2 separate regions of the Homo sapiens genome follow, and region 2 is linked to region 1. A link means that fine-mapping ties the variant in region 1 to the expression of a gene that starts in the linked region. Tissue or cell type: whole blood. Region 1 holds a variant in brackets; the other region holds the start of a gene. All regions are shown on one strand. Distances are between the middles of the regions.

Region 1 (2,683 bases):
CCAAAAATTTGTATACCAAATTTGTTCTTACCCCCATAGTTATCCTGTCTGAATAGTTAACTGAGCACTGCTCACTTTTAGATTCCTTAAGAGTTGTTAAAAAATAAGTCTTTGTACTCTATCATGGCATGCATGAACTCTCATAGCTTGAAATGACTGCATGAAAATGTACATTTTATAATTTCTTATACTATTTACATAGGTATAAGTATACACAGAAAGTGTGTTTAAATGTTTAACAGCCAAAAACAAAAACCAAAAAAAAGTCACTCTGCTGTAACAGAACACTGTTCTGCATATGGCTAGCTGTACATTGGCAGAACATAGCGATTTTAAGGATGAATTAGTGTTGTAATCTCTTTGGGATTTCCTTTATATTTGCGGTGGTTTATGACTGACATTTCATGTAACTATAGCTTTCTGTTTGGATTTAATAAAAGATTCATTTCTGTGGCAAGATACACATTTGCACTCCAGTGTTGAATAAAAGCTACTGTTCTGCAAGGGTATAAAATGCTGATTTATAACAACACGTTCCAATAACAGTGATCTAATTCTTTCAAACTATTTCTTCCCAGGTCCCAGGAACAGCATGGCTCCAGCAAAGGATGACTCTTCTCTTCCAGAATATTCAGCCTTTAACACATCTGTCCATGCTGCAATTAGACATGGAAATTGGAAACTCCTCACGGGCTACCCAGGTAGAGTCCTTAGCTTAGCAAACTTCCCTTCCCGTGGTAGACAAAGCAGGGCTGTGTCCTCAGGGCAGTATCTCCAGTCTATCTGCCCTCCTGGGATTTGATTCCCACGGCCATTTCTCTGGAAAGAGAGGACATTATCACTCTTGTTCTAACCGTTTCCCACCTCTTCCTCTGTGGCTCCTCCTCAAGGCCCCTAAGCCCTACCACTTACCTCACTTTGCTCAGATACCTGAAATCTTAATTTGTCTTTCTAATCTTTCATGATCCCTCCTGATATATGTCCTAGAAAGACAACTATTTATTCAGGGTTTTCTTTTCCCAATTCTAAGACTCCGCCTGTTCCCAATTACACAGCTTCCATCATTGTCATGGTGCAAGTAAGCTTTCCCAGTGGATCATCAAGGAGAAGCTTACCGAAGTAACAAATGCCTTTTGCAAAACATATCTCTGGGGCTGCTGAATGAGGAGATAGGAAGAAATGGTTTAACCTACTCGTCCTAACCAAAAAAAAAAAAAAAAAAAAAAAAAGAGAGAGAGAGAGAAAGACAGAGAGAATTAACTGTAGCAGGGGTGAAAGGAAGAAATGTCACTCTTATGCTTCATGGAAAATACGGATTTTAAATATATGTGGCTATCAAGCACAGCACATTTAGCTAACAAAGAGAGTCTCTGAGAGCTACACCCTCAACCAGTGGTATAGCTGGGGAAGGAGGTTGCTCCTCTGATTATATTCTCTAAGAGTGATATCTTTTCAATACTTTTAAAATATGTGGGATGATGGTTAAGGCTGTGATGTAATTAATCAATGTTTACAATGAGAACATTTTTGGCGTTTGCAATATGACAAGTCTTTTTTGACTGGGATTGTCCCATGTATTGCAAGACTTTAGCATCACTAGCTCATGCCCACTAAATGCCAGGAGCACCCCTATGCCCTAGTCCTTGTGACAAGGACATACACACATGCACACA[C/T]GTTTCTGGGTGTCCTTGCTTGTGAAGCAGTGAGACATGTCTAGTTAAAGCACCAGAAGTCAAGTCTGAGAAGCATCTAGAGACAGCATCTAGGGCCGCATCTTTTTATGTTTCCACACCCACAACCCAGTGCAGCCTTGGCCTCAGACTCCTTCCCTGAAATTAGAACCTGCCTCTGTGCTTCTCCCTCAGTAAACTGTTTTGTTTTCTTTGCTAGGCTGTGGTTACTGGTTCCCTCCACCGTCTCAATACAATGTTTCTGAGATACCCTCATCAGACCCACCAACCAAGACCCTCTGGCTCTTTGATATTGATCGGGACCCTGAAGAAAGACATGACCTGTCCAGAGAATATCCTCACATCGTCACAAAGCTCCTGTCCCGCCTACAGTTCTACCATAAACACTCAGTCCCCGTGTACTTCCCTGCACAGGACCCCCGCTGTGATCCCAAGGCCACTGGGGTGTGGGGCCCTTGGATGTAGGATTTCAGGGAGGCTAGAAAACCTTTCAATTGGAAGTTGGACCTCAGGCCTTTTCTCACGACTCTTGTCTCATTTGTTATCCCAACCTGGGTTCACTTGGCCCTTCTCTTGCTCTTAAACCACACCGAGGTGTCTAATTTCAACCCCTAATGCATTTAAGAAGCTGATAAAATCTGCAACACTCCTGCTGTTGGCTGGAGCATGTGTCTAGAGGTGGGGGTGGCTGGGTTTATCCCCCTTTCCTAAGCCTTGGGACAGCTGGGAACTTAACTTGAAATAGGAAGTTCTCACTGAATCCTGGAGGCTGGAACAGCTGGCTCTTTTAGACTCACAAGTCAGACGTTCGATTCCCCTCTGCCAATAGCCAGTTTTATTGGAGTGAATCACATTTCTTACGCAAATGAAGGGAGCAGACAGTGATTAATGGTTCTGTTGGCCAAGGCTTCTCCCTGTCGGTGAAGGATCATGTTCAGGCACTCCAAGTGAACCACCCCTCTTGGTTCACCCCTTACTCACTTATCTCATCA
Region 2 (2,683 bases), 200 kb before region 1:
ATGATTTTATTTAACTCATTAATAAGGAAATTGGTAAGGTGTTAAAACCAATTCAAAGGACAATCCAAAGAACAGATCAGGAATACTAAAATAAATATGCAAGCGGAGGTGAAACTGTTTTCCTTGGTAGTGGTGGAGGGGAAGGATTGCTACTCCGCTGGATAAAGTTCATTTGTGTATATATAAATAAGAATTATTTTCCATTGTTATTTATCTATAACTTATAAAGTTGTAAACAACTTCCACGGAATCAGACTCAACCTGGAAGGGTATGGTCTCTAGGCAATGCAAAAATTTTCCCCTACACCTGTTAACAACTATAATATCTCCAGACAGAGTAGACAGAAAGTCTGGATGGCAACGGGAATCTACTGGTCATACGGCTAACTTCCTAATTCAATAAGCACGTGACTAAAGGATTTTTTCCTTCCACTCAGATATTTCAGGCTAACTAGATACTGTGTGCTTCTTAGTGTCACTGCTTAGTGGGGGAGCCAGCTCTGAGTGGGGTCATATCCGGACAAGCGAATGAGCTATTTATTCAATGACCACGCAACACTCCAAATCCTCCCAGGGCAACTTGAAAGTAACCGCACCTTCCAAAGGGCACCGTGCAATCAGACTGTGTGTTTGGCCTCCTGTTTGCTAGTGGGGAGGAAGCGGCTTCATGGGTGTACACTACGCATAAATGAATGTGAAAGGCTATTTAGACCTCTGCCTTTTCACCGTCCTCCCACCTGCCACAGGCTGGGCTCTTGTGCTAGAAATGACTTGCTAGCTAGACATCATGGTTCAGGATCTGAGTCAGAGGTTTAACCATTTATAAGCTTTTTTCTTATGAAAAATTGGCACTAATTATAATGTCTAACTGTCAGAGTTGTTGCAGGCTTTACAGGAGACGCGGGCTGTGAAGATGCTTTGTAAATTGTGAAGCGTTATTAAAGAACACATCTTTTTTTTTTAGGAAACCACAGTGCAAATTTAATTGCCGGGGAAGATAACGGGCCTTGGTGCCCTCCAAGCGTCAGCTGAGTTTCCAAGAAGCCGGGCAGCGGGCGCCCGCGGGTTCGTCTCTGGCTCCTCCTCCGCCACAGCAGCCGGGGGCCCGGGTCGGAGGCGGCGGGGGCCGAGCGCCCGGCCTCGCAAGCCCACGGCCCGCTGGGGGTGCCGTCCCGCGCCGGGGCGGAGCAGGCCCCGGCAGCCCAGTTCCTCATTCTATCAGCGGTACAAGGGGCTGGTGGCGCCACAGGCGCTGGGACCGCGGGCGGACAAGGATGGGTCCGCGCGGCGCGGCGAGCTTGCCCCGAGGCCCCGGACCTCGGCGGCTGCTCCTCCCCGTCGTCCTCCCGCTGCTGCTGCTGCTGTTGTTGGCGCCGCCGGGCTCGGGCGCCGGGGCCAGCCGGCCGCCCCACCTGGTCTTCTTGCTGGCAGACGACCTAGGCTGGAACGACGTCGGCTTCCACGGCTCCCGCATCCGCACGCCGCACCTGGACGCGCTGGCGGCCGGCGGGGTGCTCCTGGACAACTACTACACGCAGCCGCTGTGCACGCCGTCGCGGAGCCAGCTGCTCACTGGCCGCTACCAGGTACGCGGCGCCCCCGCCGCCCGCGCCGCCCCCGCCCCGCCTTTCGCCGGCGCCCTGCCGCTCCTACCCGGCCCTTGAGGCCGCGGGCGCTGGCAGGCGGGGCTCGGACCGCCGACCCAGTTATGGGTCCCGGCGGCTTCTCGCCCCAACCTCGCTCTTCCAGGCCGGCAGCCCGCCGCGGCCTCTGCGCATGCCCGGCTCTGGCGCCCCGCGGACCCGCGCCCCGGCCGCCGGGTTGGGCGGGTGGCTTTGTCTTTCGTTTTCTGAAGCTCCGGGCGAAGGGGTTTATGGGAATGCCGGGTGCTGGGCGCCGCGGCCGGCAGGCGGAGCGGTCCTGAGGTGGGAGGCTGGGGAGGGCGTGGGCTGGGAGCAAAGACGAGGGGAGAGGTAAAATGAAGGGGTGCTCGCCGTGGGTGCGACCCTGGCCCGTGGGAACCCAGCGGTGATAGGTTAGGAGTGTCCCACCAAAGATTATTTTTTTCCAGGTTCTCAACACCCCTGGAATGAAACCTGATGCTAGGTTGATTTTTCTTAGGCTGCTGACATTCCTTTCACATGTAACCTTGTATTGAACTCTTCTGAGCATCTTCATTATCGCTTTAAAAGCTTCCCTTTAGGAACGGCTCCACAGTTAACGAAGGAAATATAAATGTAGAGCGTGCATAGATGTTAGATGGCTAAGAATATCAAGAACATTTGCATAGCACTTTGTTGTTTTTAAAGTGAATTATTGAAACAGTGCATGAGGTAGTTGTTTTTACCCCGTTTTACAGACGAGGCAGGAAGCCTGTAAAGGCTCGTTGGCATAAGAATCGCACAGCTAGAAAGTGGTCAAGGCAGTGTCCGTTGTGCTTTTCCTGCATCCACTGGTCGTCCCGGGCTTATGAAATTGGCCTTTTTTCCCCTCAATCTGAATACGATTGTCATATTTCTAAGACCCTGAAGTTATTATGACCATATTAAATACAGTAAATGGGAACTGTTGGATACCACCTGCATGCCTTCACAGAGTACATATGCTGTTTACTCAACAAAAATATTTTGAGCTTACTGTGCTACTGACAGGGGATATATATTTGAATGTTGCCCTCCCAAGT

Evidence for each region. PIP is the estimated chance that this variant, and not a neighbour inherited with it, causes the effect.
Region 2: ARSB starts here. The variant in region 1 is fine-mapped to the expression of ARSB in whole blood (TOPMed, PIP 0.94).

Annotation. Positions count from the first base shown.
Region 1 is chr5:78,779,870-78,782,552 of GRCh38, reverse strand. ARSB (arylsulfatase B) reads left to right here. Exons shown (of 8, transcript NM_000046.5): 7 at 579-701; 8 at 1,891-2,683. The coding sequence ends at 2,156. Among named protein-coding and RNA genes, the nearest start is that of LHFPL2, 130 kb to the right of the region's middle. The variant C/T (reference allele first, on the strand shown) is at 1,674.
Region 2 is chr5:78,983,840-78,986,522 of GRCh38, reverse strand. ARSB (arylsulfatase B) reads left to right here and starts at 1,213. Exons shown (of 8, transcript NM_000046.5): 1 at 1,213-1,586. The coding sequence starts at 1,275. RefSeq lists a silencer at 1,031-1,890.